4 linked regions of the Homo sapiens genome follow. The protein of the gene in region 2 interacts with the protein of the main gene of each other region in a pairwise test. Each region holds a gene or a part of one and is shown on either strand. Other genes may lie near its edges.

Region 1 (2,698 bases), on a different chromosome or scaffold from region 2:
AGCCAGCCTGGCCCAGCCCAGTCCAGCCCAACTCGGCTAGGCCGCAGAGCACTGGGATGCCCCAAATGGGCAGGGAGCCAGGGTACTCATGGTCTCTGACAGGGAGGCATTCCAGGCCCTCATGACTCCATCCTGGCCAGGCTGCTCACCAGCCCCTCTGCCCCACTCCGGGCCCTGTCTGAGCAGCCAGGGCCCACAGACCCTCAGCTCTTACCGATCATAATGGAAACGTATGCCTTGGAAATTGCCAGCGTACTCCTGGAGATGGGCATCCCCATGGCCTGATTCTCTCAGCATTCTGGGCTTTGGCAGCTGGGACCCCTGAAGAAAGGAATGGTCAGTAAAGTAGCCTGCCCAACCCCACATGAGTGGCTTCTCCAGTTTGCCCAGAGCCAATGGTGCACCCCATGGGGAATCACATGGTGCCTGGTCTCTGGAATCAAGGGCTGGCAGCTTCAGGCCGCTAGGAAAGCTTGGGAACCCCACACAGGCTGCTGGCCACCACCCCACCCACACCATGCTCCTCGGTAGCTCTTGGTCATCCAGGCAGGCTGTGGCAAAAGAGGAGCAGTAACAGGGGTCCCTGTCCTCTGCAAGAACTTTCACATGCAGGTATTAGCTGAGAGGCTGAGCAACCTACTGAAGGAGAACGTAAAACCTTGATTGGCAGCCCAGGCCATGGAGGCCTGGCGAGATGCCTTTACTTTCCAAGGATGCGTGGTAAATGTCAGGGCTAAGGCTAGAACCCTGGCTACTGGGAAACCAGCAACTCCTCTGGGTAAGCTCAGCCAGCCATCCCTGTGGCTTTCATTTTTATCCATCTGCCAACAACTCCCTAGCATGTACATCTCTGGCCCAGAGCCCTTGGGCCAGGGCCATCTGATGCCTTTGAAGCATCAGTGGGGGATAGAGGAAAAGAGCGTGGCTTTTGGTGCCAGACCTGCCTGGGCTCAAATCATAGTTCTAGGTTTCCAGTTCAAGATGAAATGTTTCACAAGCTGCTTATTTAACACACACCACATGCCAGGGACCATGCCATCCTCTAAGCCCTTACCAATACTAAGTGACTGATTCCTCGTCACAGCCCTGTGAAACGGTATCATTATCATCCCGTTTTGAAAGTAGGGGAAACTGAAACACAGAGAGGTTAATTACCTTGTCCAAGTCACACAGCTAGGAAGTAGCAGAGCAGTAATTTGAACCCAGGACATTTCAGTCCAGAGGTTATACTCTCAGCCATTACACTACGATGTCCCTCATATTTAACACTCCTTCCTGTTAAGGCTCCACTAATTGCCAGTGAAGACAGTAAAACAGTACAAACCCATAAGACAGAAGACAACACAAGAGGCATCAGCTAATGAAAGAATTCAATAAAATTCTGGAATCTAGGAAGTGTCCATGGAGGAACTAGGCCTCATTGTGGATGGGAAGCAGATGGGACTCAGCTGACAAAGGAGGCCCCCGCCAGCAGCATCCAGAGAGGACTTAGACCTGCAAGGACAATGGCGGCATATCACAAGAAAGGAGGGGAGGGAGGAAAACAGGGCCTTTAACTAATGATCTATGTAGGAAGCAGTCATCCACACTTCTCACTCCTGGTTGGCAGCCAGGCACTTACCGCCAAGCCAAAACCTGAACCAAATGAATAAGAAAGCTGGGGTGAAAGTGACACAAAATAAAACCGTCTTCATTCTGGCAGGGTTCAGGGTGCCCCACATGACAGCCAGTTCCTTACCCGCTCACCCTGCTGAAGTAGAGCCTGTCATTTGAGAGGCCTGACTGAGGCGCACAGAGTACTGGGTTAGCTCTTCTATTTGCCTCATTCTTACAAAAAAATAGACAACCAAGGCTCACCTGTCACCTGAGAAATATCTGCAGCCCTCTTCTGTTCCGAAGTAACAACATCAAACTGAAGGTGGATCAATTTCTGTGTAAAGGATTTTCATAGGAACTTTGCCACTGCACTCTGTTTGTTGCAATAAGGCATAACTAATCTTTCTCAAGAGGAGCACACAGATATTGGTGCAACTTTTTTATGAACCGTAGTTCATGGTCACAATATTTTATTTTCTTAAGATACTTCAAAAATTGCATTAAAAAGATAATGGGTATTAGGGAGACCCCATGACTATAATTTGATCAATGATGTCTCTTAGAAAAATTTTCAGACCATTGCTTGATTTTCCTATAAATTGGAATCAGAAGGACAAAAAAAATTTTGAGAGATTTGAAGGCAAAAAATAAGGATGAATGGCTGATGGCTGGAATTTGTTTGTTTGTTTCAGATAACATAGTTTGTTGTTAACCCACCAAGTCCCAACTTCTCTCTGTTAATCATTTCAAAAAATGTTATTTTAATTTCCATGTAATTTTAAAGGCACACTGCTTTTTTCCAAGTCAGCAGGATAGCATTATTAACTTTTCTCACCCTTGCATATTATGGTTCTCCTAGAGGCAGTTCCATTAACTGTTTTATTCAAAAATAAAGGAATGAATGAATTAATAAATAAATAGAATTAGTAAATTAGATTTCCTAATTCTAAATTTCTAAATTTAATTTATAAATTCAATATAATGTCTATATTTTCAAACAGTCTACCTCTAGCCCTTGTAGTCAACTTTAATTAAACCAGAGATTATATCTCCCCTAGTCTCAGGGACATTAGTGGTTTGCAGGAGCCTGACCTCCTGGAGC
Region 2 (4,192 bases):
AACAGAGACCCACAATCAAGCCAGGCCAACAGCGCAGACAAGCACAGAGAGATGCAGACACATTCACAGATTCACACCCACACAAAAGACCCACAACCCGTACCAACAAATACATACAGAGACACAGGAGACACACATACACACGCAGAGGAGTAAAGACTGTAAGAACGCAAGCTGGGAGCTCGAACCAACCCCCACCCCTCAACCCCAGCACCCACTCCTGAGAAATCTGGAGAGCACAGCCTCCAGAACCCAGAGCTTCTGCCCAGCAAGCCCCTTTGAAGGGCCCCAAAGCCTCAGGGTGGTAGAAATGCTCTTGTCCTTGTCAAGAATGGCTTCAGCCCCTGACCCTCCCAGACTCACAGCAATCACCAAGCCCAAGACATGGGAAACCGACCTTACACTTTCTCTTTCGAGATATGGGCATGGAAAGGGAAAAATAAAAGGCCTTGTGGAAACATCTCTTCTAGCCATTGTGCCATCTACCTTGCACTTAAATGGGGCAGGCATTGGCGGCTGGAATCTCAGTCTTTATCTAATCTATTTCTTTTTTTTTTTTTTTTTTTTTGAGATGGAATTTCACTCTGTCGCCCAGGCTGGAGTGCAGTGGCGCGATCTCAGCTCACTGCAACCTCCACTTCTCAGGTTCAAGCGATTCTCCTGCTTCAGCCTCCTGAGTAGCTGGGATTACAGGTGCCTGCCATCACGCCCAGCTAATTTTTGTATTTTTAGCAGAGATGGTTTTTCGCCAAGTTGGCCAGGCTGGTCTCGAACTCCTGACCTCAGGTGATCCACCCGCCTTGGCCTCCCACAGTGCCGGATTATAGGTGTGAGTCACAGTGCCCAGCTATCTAATCTATTTCTTAGATAACACTCATGCCAGCTCCTTGAAGAAGTCTTCCTTTGCTACTGCAACCTCATCATCTCCCATCCCTCTGACCTTCTACAGACCTGGGCTGCTCTCAAGGTTCCCCAGATATAAATCCCAGCCCATCAACCAGACTAAAAGTTCCCCAAGAACAGGACCCAGGCCCCCCCCCCTCTGTCCCCACCTCATCTAGCTGAACTAGGAGGCACAGTGTCACTGAGTCACGGCCAGCAGGGACCTCAAAGATTTACAGATAAAAGTGATGCTGGTACTAACACACATGCGGGTCTGTGCAGCACATCATTATCTAACATCAGGGCACTCCCTTCCTTGAAAACAAAGCTAAGTCCACAAAGACCTGCTGAATAAACAAAGGAAGGAGGGCTCAACCGTGGCCTCAAACAGCCAGGCATCTGTGGTCCTGTCTTCTGAATAGAACCCTTAAGCACCTCAAGGGTTATATACATTTCCTTGGGAGTAAAGCACCTGCGGGTGCCTAGTGAGGACTTAAGGAGATATTTATAGCCCTTAAATCCAGCTTCTGGATGAGATGTTCCCAGAAGTTGAGTTCCCAGAGCCCAGGTCAGACACAGTGACCTACAAGCCTGGCCTGACCACCGTGTCACCCATCTCAGGGCCCCTCATGGGTGGGCATTTCTTCCTGTACATTTCAGCTGTATTTCCTCTATCCCTGTTCATTGCCCCAAAATCTCCTGGAGGCTTGGTGTTAAAACTGATTTTATTTGCTCTTTATATAGAAAAGACACTAACCTATTATATTGGTTCACATCTCTCCCCAGTCCAACCTGCCCCAGCTCCCTTGCTCAAACACCTCTGCTGCAATTATTCTGCTTCCTCTCTGGAATGGATACCCATGAGCTCAGCCCCTCTCTCTCTCTAGCCATCAGCTTCTTTCTGTCTTCACTCTTCTCCTTATCCAGCTTAGATTCCATAATTCATTACTCATTTTCTTATTCCCTCCCCTGCCCTGCCTTCTGGCCACACTCACCCTAGATGAACATAATTCTCATCTGTACCTGAGCTGAATGTTGCTAAGAAAAAAGGGGACCCCATGAGGAAGACTGTAAATTCACATCAGCCAATGTCAAATGAACCTTGTGTGTGGCCCAGAAATCTTAGGGGCCGGGTTTCTTTGGAGAGTGTCCTCACTATCCGTCGACAAACATGGCCTCGTTGTGAGCCCACTCTCCACACTACATCATATTTGATGGAAAAAATGGAAGCCATCAGAGGTAACTTCTTCATTTGCTTCCCAACATCTACAGACTTACCCACACCTGTCCCATCCCCCCTTCTCTCAGGTTACATGGTGGGAGATCCCTTCTTCACTCAAAGGCCAAGCCAGGCCTTGAAACTGAGTCTGTCTGCCCCATCCTCTTCCTACCATGCCATGAGGGACCTGCTGCAAAGACAGTATATTTTACCACCTTGTCGGCACATGCAAGCATCTGCCCAGGTAGGCAGCTAAGTGCAGGCCTCACTCAGGGCAGTGTCACATATAGCAGAACCCAACTGCAGTTACATTGCGGGTATCTTGGGATCCTGGGGCTCACACCCAGCACAGGATAGCCAGCTTGCCTCCCCCTCACATGCCTAAGAGGTACCTTCTAACTAGCCTCAGCACAGCCAAGTCCCATCCCCCCAAGAAGACACCTTTCCCACCCCCTGCTACAGATCACCAGAAATGAGGCCTTTACACTCTCAGCCTTAAAACCTTAGAACATTGATGCTAAGGTTTTCTAAATAAAGAATTCTAGATTATTTAATTATTTTTTTAGAGGCAGGCTCTTACTCTGTCACCCAGGGTGGAGTGCAGTAGCATGATCATAGCTCACTGCAGCCTTGAACTCCTGGGCTCAAGTGATCCTCCCACCTTAGTCCCCTGAGTAGCTAGGACTACAGGCATGTGCCACTATTCCCAGCTAGTTTTTTTAAAGAGATGGGGTATTGCTATGTTGCCCATACTGGTCTCAAACTCCTAGGCTCATTGGATCCTCCTGCCTTGGCCTCCTGAATAGCTGGGACTACAAGTGTGAGCCACCACACAGGCCTAATTTTTTTATTTTCTGTAGAGACAGGGGTCTTGCTGTGTTGCCTAGGCTGGTCTTAAACTCCTTACCTCAAGTGATCCTCCTGGCTCAGCCTCCCAAAGTGCCGGGATCACAGGTGTGAACCACTGTGCCTGACATTAGACTCTTACAGGTATAGACCACCCAACACAGAGCTGCATGGAACCACAGCAATCGCCAAGCCAATACTTTCTTCCTACAAATGAGGAACCTGCTGCTTGGCAAGCACAGTGACCAGGCAAACTTGATCCCACAGCTCCCAACTCCCAGCTGAATCCTCCTCTCTTTGAGCAATCTTCCAGAGAAAGCAAGACAAATAAGGCTTTGAGGGAAGGATTCCTCTCCAAATCCAGAATCCTGAGGTCCTGACAGTCCCCAGAGGTTCCCTGGAAAGTTACTCCAGTGGAAGGGAAAGGGGAAGCAAGAAGACAGGGATTACACTGCAGAGAGGGACCCCTGTCCAGATGCTCTGTGAAAGGAGGGTGGAGGGGAAGGAAGGGAAGAGAGGCCTAGATGGGGGAGGTTGAGGGAAACTGAGGCCCAGTCGGGGAGGTGGCCCATGGAAGAAGCCTCTGGGAGCCTGGCAGGGGAAGACTTATGGTCCATGCATATGCCACAAGTGGGACTGAAGGACAGTCAGGCCTGTGGGCACCCCACCCCGCTGCCCAGCACGCCCAGTCTTCCTGCCTCCTCCAGCCACCCTGGCCCACCCCCATCCCATGGCACTCACACATCCAGAGGTAGTAGAGGCGCTTGGTCATGCTGACATGCTGGGGAGGAATATCTGCCTCGAAGTCTTGGTAGAAACATGGCTTCAGCGGGATGAATTTGGGCAATGGTGGGAAGTTGTTCACTTTCTCTGTGGATGAGACACATTGCACAACATCACCTCCAGTCTTCCACCCGACAATCCAAGACGCCCATCCTTCCCCTGGCTGTGCTGCCCCATTGGCCCCTGTGGCCACCGGCCACTCTGCTTTCCCCACCCAGCCGTCCCTACCTCCCCGGGTCAGCTGTGATGATCCCAAAGTAGCCAAAGGCCCTGAGACAGTGTCACTCAGAATAAAAAACAATGTCACCTTGACAGACAGCATTTATTATTTTTTAATTCTGAGTGACACTGTCTCAGGGCCTCAAGGTACCACCCTCTCAGTGGGGGCAGCTCCAGGCAGAAGAAGCGGATGTGTGAGAATCTACAGACGTGGGTTCCAGCCTCCACTCAGCATTTGTGCTC
Region 3 (2,967 bases), on a different chromosome or scaffold from region 2:
GGACAAACTAGGGAACAGGAAAAGCAGATTCATGTTATCCATCTCATGCTTACTGGGTAAGGATATGGTTATTGTCCCCTTCCCAGCTCCTCCTCTGAATCTATTCTTCATTCACCAATCAGGATGACTTTTAAAAACAGAAATCAGGCCATGTCATTCCTTTCCTTCAAGACTCCCAACAGCTTGATCCTAAAGTGCCTCAAACTCATCACACTTACACTTAAATCCACACTTCCTACACCAGCCTACAAAGCCCTTCACAATCTGGGCCCGGTCTCTCCAGGCTCACCTGGGACCACATTCTCTCTTGTTTGGTATGCTCTATGCCCAATGCCAGTCTTCTCTCTGTTCTTAGGACAAACCAAGTTCCTTCCCACCTTATGGTCTTTGCCTCACCTGCTTTATACTTAGATCCCAACAGCCTCTCTCTGAGAGGCCTTCCTTGACCACCCAATGTGAACTAGTCATCCCTTTGCATTCTAGAATACATTATCTTAATTCTTTGCATAGCACTCATCAAATTATATTTCCTTGTTTATTTGCTTAGTTGCCTCACCCTGCTTCTAAAACTATAAGCTCTTTGAGAGAGAATCTTACCATTACTTCATCCTCAGTGCCTAGAAAAATACCTGGTACACAGTGAGTACTCAACAAATATTTGTGTCTTAGACATGAATCTGATGGCACAAGTACTAACTGTACCCTTCCCAAAAACTAAGGGTTTGAATTCTGGGCCCCTCAGGACAAACAGGAGGAAGGACATCATTGCCCTTTGCAAATTACAATATAAATGCCTCTCTGGAGGAACTTCTTGATTATACTGACATTGATTTTTTTTTTTAAGTCTGCTATATGGGAATGCAATATTGTATTTATTCTATTCATTAACAATACTTGAACATTTACAATATTCATTGAACATAATCTAAGAGAAGGTCAACTTACATTTTTTACTTCTCTATTAATAAGAGAGATGGTCAAATTAATTTATGGTCAAAATTATAATGGCAAAAACTTATAAATAAATACGTGCTTGGTGTTACTATGGTTACACACAGTTCAGTTTTTGGTGTAAAGTTCTTTGGCTGCAAGAAAGAACATTTGGTTTACTTCACTAATAGAAATATCTCTTAAGGCTGGAATGGCCTCCTCTTGGTATTTCTTCTGCTGTTGATTTTTTGCATAGTTATCTGTAAGAAAAGACCAAAAAGCTCTGTTTACCTAAGCAATTTCTTCTACAGTCTCTGTGTCTGATGGAGACCCACCACATAGTTTACTAGGCTGACGTTTGGATAGTGACAAACATCATGTTTAACATAATTAGATGATTACTTAAATCCTCTCTTTAGAAGAAATGTCCCAATTAAAATAAAAACATCCCTGTCTCTACTAAAAACACAAACACACAAAATTAGCCTGGTGAGGTGGCGGGCGCCTGTAGTCCCACCTACTCGGGAGGCTGAGGCAGGAGAACAGCGTGAACCCAGGGGGCGGAGCCTGCAGTGAGCCGAGATTGCGCCATTGCACTCCAGCCTGGGTGACAGAGCGAGACTCCATCTCAAAAATAAAAAATAAAAAATAAATAAATAAATAAATAAAAATAAAAAAATAAAAACATCAGTAAAGTACTTTTTTCATCTCTAACTTGGAAAGAAATCAATATTTTAATCAACCATACAATGATGATTAAAGTCTCATTTGCACATTTCTCACGGGAACAGAATTATATCCAGGCCTTGAAAATGTATTTAAATCAACATGGCAAAACTATTAAATCATTTGGTATAAATATTCATGCAATCTTAACAATTTCCCCTCTTTGCACAAATTACCTATTTGCTGCCAATTCCAATCAAGAATGCATGGAATGCAGTGTATTAGAAAGACACTTAAAAATAATAGAATTGATTTTCAAAATACATTGTAGAGGCTAATATATAAAGGTTTTGAAAAGTTGAAAAATCATACCAGGGAACTTAAAAAATACTTTACTTTCTAGAATTTAAGCAAGCTCAGGAGTCTGATTTATTTTCATCTTTAGACTTGAAAGAACTTTAAAAAAATAAAACCAGACGAACGTGTTGTGGCTCTTTTATCCACTTAATTGGAATAAGGAGTACACAATGATCCTGAGGAGGATACACACCCCCAAAGTCCTTTTTCTGAACAAGGTCTGCATGTACTATTTACTATCCCTTGATCAACGGTGTCTGTTCAGGATAAGCTTCTCTCAGGCAAAGTTAATGGGAACATATTATAGACACATATAGCATATACTTGTGGTTTTTATGGGAACATACACCTGCTAACCAGTGCTATAATTAATTATAATTTATTTCCTCCATGAATATAGCTAGTGTGTATTCATCAGAACTTAATTCCTTCATGCAAATATTTCCTTTTATATAAGTTTGTATTTATTTCTCTTAGTAGCTTCTTTTTACTGTCCGTGTGTGTGTGTGTGTGTGTGTGTGTGTGTGTGTGTGTGTGTGTTTTCTTTTAGGATGGAGTTTCACTCTTGTCACCCAAGCTGGAGTACAGTGGTGGGATCTTGGCTCACTGCAACCTCTGCCTCCTGGGTTCAAGTGATTCTCCTGCCTCAGCCTCCCAAGTAGCTGGGATTACAGACGCGCACCACCAACATGGGTTTTGCAGCCTGTTCTTTGTTGCTTTTCTGGGTAAAAGTGCTAATACTCCACTCTTTCATTGCCCCAGCACTTTCCTTTTATATAAAGTTACCTGTGATTGTATGGATGGAGTCGAGTGGAGAGGTACTCATCATGTTAATCCCAAACAAGAGCACGTAGCCAATTACTATAGCAATAAGGAGGTAGACAGGTAATGCAACTGCCCAATATCTGCCAAAGAGAATATTAAAGTACATAATAGACACTTTAAAAAAGTTGTAATTCTCAAGAGTCGGTCACAAAGCCAACATGTTTTTTAAATTTAAATTTTATAAAGTAA
Region 4 (3,868 bases), on a different chromosome or scaffold from region 2:
AGAGAATCACAAACTTTAGTTCAAAATTTTGATGTTTTAAATATACTTATTTAGTGAGTGGCTATACCAGTGAAGGGTAACATTAATGAAAGTAAGAATGAAGTTTTAAGCATGAAACAGTAACTATAAAAACAAACTGCTACATGGAGACTCACTAATATAGCTTTATATTGTTTTCATTTTGATAGTGGGTTTAAAATCTGTGTTCAGAACTATAGAAATATCCAGAGTCAAAAAATATTTATCTCAAGGTCTCTTTCTAAAAGAATGAATTTCCAAAATAGTTTTATTATATAAATTTTTTTAAAGCCACTTTTCCTGCAAAAAGGTAAGAACAAGATAAAACCGCTTGCTTTCCTACCCCCCTCTAGTTAACCAGTACATATTTAAGCACCTATGATGTGGACAGCACTAAATTTAGCAACAAATTATCAGTGTAATATTAGCTGCTTTAAAAATAACTATTATTTTACATTAATTCTTTCAAAAATAAATGTACCTAGTATAAGCCAATCAATCTCATTTTATCATTTAGTTACTGACTGAGATTTCAATCTTCTTTAAATGTTCTAAAACTTATCAGGCTCTATCTGCATTGAATAATAAAAGCAAATCAAATCAAAAGTCTTGATTATATTCAGCTAGCATGAACAATGAAAGTGAGTCAAACGTTCTCCTTCAAACTGAGAAACTGGATTACATCTTTTGGTATGAGTTCAATTAATTTCAAGTATTCATCACTGGTAGAATTAAATTTCTTCCTTTCTCAGGTAAGAATAATCATTAAACTCAAGTGCTTAAAGAATAAAGGCAATAATAGATAAATATATAATTCTATATTTGGATTGCAAGAATTAAAGTAAAAGCAAAACACATACACACACAACCAGAGTCGCCAGTCATTTATCTTCATATAATCAGACAATAATTTTGATGATAGAATACTTGGATTAAATTACCTTTTTTTTTCTGTGCTTTAAGATAGAAATTCAAAGCACTAAAATGCCAACTAAGTAAGCACGGGTATGAATTGTGAGTAAAATATGAATACTGATATTTTTGTAATAGTTTGGGTCTCATCAAGAAGAGGCCTATTTCAGGAGCATAATAAATACATATTGCATAAGACTTTGGTACTGATGGTGCTGGGTTCAGAACTCAGGGAAGATTTTGCAAACAGAAAATATTTTTCACAGAAAAAGTGCAAGGAAAGCAGATAGGGATAAACAGTGTTAAAACTTTCTTTCTTAATGATTCCTCCGATTAGCCTAAATAGTCCTCTATCAACATGCATTTTTAGAAGAAGAAACTCATCTCTTAAGGAGGTCTATAATCTGTCTTAAGCCTTATTATAAAATAAAAAAGCAATAATTTGATAAAATGCTAAAATAGAAATGACAGTGATATTTGAAAAAATCTTAAAATGTGGGAAGTATTCTCCATGACTAAACTAATTAAATATTCCCAAAGTGGTAAAATATTTCATCATTAATAGGTGATTGCATGTCTGAAATGAAAAATGTTGTTACTTCTGAATAGCCTGAGAAAAAGAACATGCCAACAATTTAGAAATTAAACCCTACACAAGTGTTGACAGCCATAGTAAGAAAAGAGTGCATACAACAAATGTTAAGAGCTATTTACAGATTTAAAAGCAGTTCCCATTCTTGCAGCAAAATTGGTGACATAAAACCATTTGTACCAGATTATCATAGTCATCTTTCACAGAGAAAAAATACCAATGCAGTTAAGAGATTTCTCAAAAGATTCACCATTATATTGATCATTTTTATTTAAACCTTTAAGATTTTTATCCATGCTTGTAAATAAGGCAAAAGAAAGGCAGAAAAGACATCTTGGGATGAAAACTAAATTTTAATTTTAGTTTCTCTCTTTTTTTTTTTTTTGAGACAGAGTCTTGCTCTGTCGCCCAGGCTGGAGTGCAGTGGCACAATATCAGCTCACTGCAACCTCCGTCTCTCGGGTTCAAGCGATTCTCCTGCCTCAGCCTCCCGAGTAGCTGGGATTACAGGCGCCAACCACCACGCCCAGCTACTTTTTTTTGTATTTTTAGTAGAGATGAGGTTTCACCATGTTGGCCAAGCTAGTCTCGAACTCCTGACCTCAGTGATCGACCCACCTTGGCCTCCCAAAGTGCTGGGATTACAGGCATGAGCCACCGTGCCCGGCCTTCTCTTTTCTAAGGTTTAAAAAAAATGACACTGAAATCCTGAATAACAATTATAATTAAGAAAGGTACACAAGAACATGCCAAGAATTCATCCTATCAGCAGATATGCTGGGTAGTAATGAAGTTTGCTTATCGGTAGCACTCTTTTAATCAAGTTTTCCATTCTGAAGACTATTTTTGGCTTTCTCTTGTCTGATGTGAGAGATGACTTTGATGCAACCTTTTGAAATTTTGATCATCCACATGACATTCATCACATCCAAAACAACACAACTAATGACCCAGGATAACTGGATTAAAACTCCAAGCCTTATGTAGGGTTCTGTTCCATACACGGAATACATGAAGCCATAATGAGGAAGCATTGAGGCAATCCGCACGATGAAGAATACTACTGTCATGAGTATTCCATTGATAACGATAGCTTTAGAAAACTTGGGATACTTCAGAGCTTCAAAGAACCACCTGAAAAATGAATTAAAGAAACATCACATTTATAGTGCATCTCTGAGGATTAACCATTTTTATTTTAGTTTTTAAATTTTAAAATTCAGTGAAGGAGGAGCAAAGGGCCTAGAATAGCATACGCAATGCTGAAAAAGAACAAAGTTGGAGGACTCACACTACCCATTTCCAAGACTTAACTATAAAGCGACAGTAATCAAGTCAGCATGGTGTTAGTGAAAGATCAATAAACCAATGGAAGAGAAAAGAGAGCTCAGAAATAGACCCACACAAATATACTCAACTGATTTGTGACAAAAGCATAAAGGTAATTCAGTGGAGAAAAAAAGTCTTTTCAACAAGGTGTGCAAAATTGTATATCAACATCGAGAAAAATGAAGTTAAGCAGAGATCTCACACCTTACACAAAAATTAACTCAAAATGGATCATAGACCTAAATGTAAAATGCAAAACTATAAAACTTCCATAAGAAAAAAGGAAAAAAACCTGTATGATCTTGCATCTGGTGGTGCTATTTTAGATACAACACCAAAAGTGTCATCCATGGAAGAAAAAGTTAGTTAAGTTGGACTTCGTTAAAATTAAAACTTGCTCTGCGAAAGACACTGTTAAAGAAAAGACAACCACACACTAGGAAAAAATATTTAAAATATACATGTATGGTAAAGTACATGTATACAAAGTACACAAAGAATTCTTAAAAGTCAACAATAAGAAAACAACCCAATTAAAACACTGGTAAAAGAGCATAACAAAAACCTCATCAGAAAATATATATAGATGAAAACTAAGCATATAAAAAGATGTTCACTATTGTCATTAGGAAGTGCAAATTGCAGTGGCTCACGCCTGTAATCCCAGCACTTTGGGAGGCTGAGGCAGGTGGATCACCTGAGGTCAGGGGTTTGAAACCAGCCTGGCCAGCCAGGCGCAGTGGCTCACCCCTGTAATCCCAGCACTTTGGGAGGCTGAGGAGCGTGGATCATCAGGTCAGGAGTTCAAGACCAGCCTGGCCAAGATAGTGAAACCCCGTCTCTACTAAAAATACAAAAATTAGCCAGGCATGGCGGCGGGCACCTGTAATCCCAGCTACTCAGAGGCTGAGGCAGAGAATTGCTTGAACCCAGGAGGCAGAGGTTGCAATGAGCCGAGATCACACCACCACACTCCAGCCTGGGCGACAGAGCAAGATTCCATCTCAAAAAAGAAAA

What was found. The genes of interacting proteins can lie anywhere in the genome.
Region 1: the proteins of SCAMP5 (region 2) and FATE1 interact in binary tests that used the Homo sapiens proteins (3 or more experiments, as listed by UniProt).
Region 3: the proteins of SCAMP5 (region 2) and PIGP interact in binary tests that used the Homo sapiens proteins (3 or more experiments, as listed by UniProt).
Region 4: the proteins of SCAMP5 (region 2) and TLCD4 interact in binary tests that used the Homo sapiens proteins (3 or more experiments, as listed by UniProt).

The regions. Positions count from the first base shown.
Region 1 is NC_000023.11:151,719,018-151,721,715, reverse strand, and holds part of FATE1 (fetal and adult testis-expressed transcript protein), read right to left. Parts: intron 322-2,698; coding exon 215-321; intron 1-214. UniProt on the Homo sapiens protein: Involved in the regulation of endoplasmic reticulum (ER)-mitochondria coupling. Negatively regulates the ER-mitochondria distance and Ca(2+) transfer from ER to mitochondria possibly implicating it in the regulation of apoptosis.
Region 2 is NC_000015.10:75,012,302-75,016,493, reverse strand, and holds part of SCAMP5 (secretory carrier-associated membrane protein 5), read right to left. Parts: intron 3,818-4,192; coding exon 3,689-3,817; intron 1-3,688. UniProt on the Homo sapiens protein: Required for the calcium-dependent exocytosis of signal sequence-containing cytokines such as CCL5. Probably acts in cooperation with the SNARE machinery.
Region 3 is NC_000021.9:37,064,523-37,067,489, forward strand, and holds the end of PIGP (phosphatidylinositol N-acetylglucosaminyltransferase subunit P), read right to left. Parts: intron 2,859-2,967; coding exon 2,740-2,858; intron 1,191-2,739; coding exon 1,060-1,190; 3' UTR 852-1,059; downstream 1-851. UniProt on the Homo sapiens protein: Part of the glycosylphosphatidylinositol-N-acetylglucosaminyltransferase (GPI-GnT) complex that catalyzes the transfer of N-acetylglucosamine from UDP-N-acetylglucosamine to phosphatidylinositol and participates in the first step of GPI biosynthesis.
Region 4 is NC_000001.11:95,190,338-95,194,205, reverse strand, and holds part of TLCD4 (TLC domain-containing protein 4), read right to left. Parts: intron 2,657-3,868; coding exon 2,338-2,656; 3' UTR 1-2,337.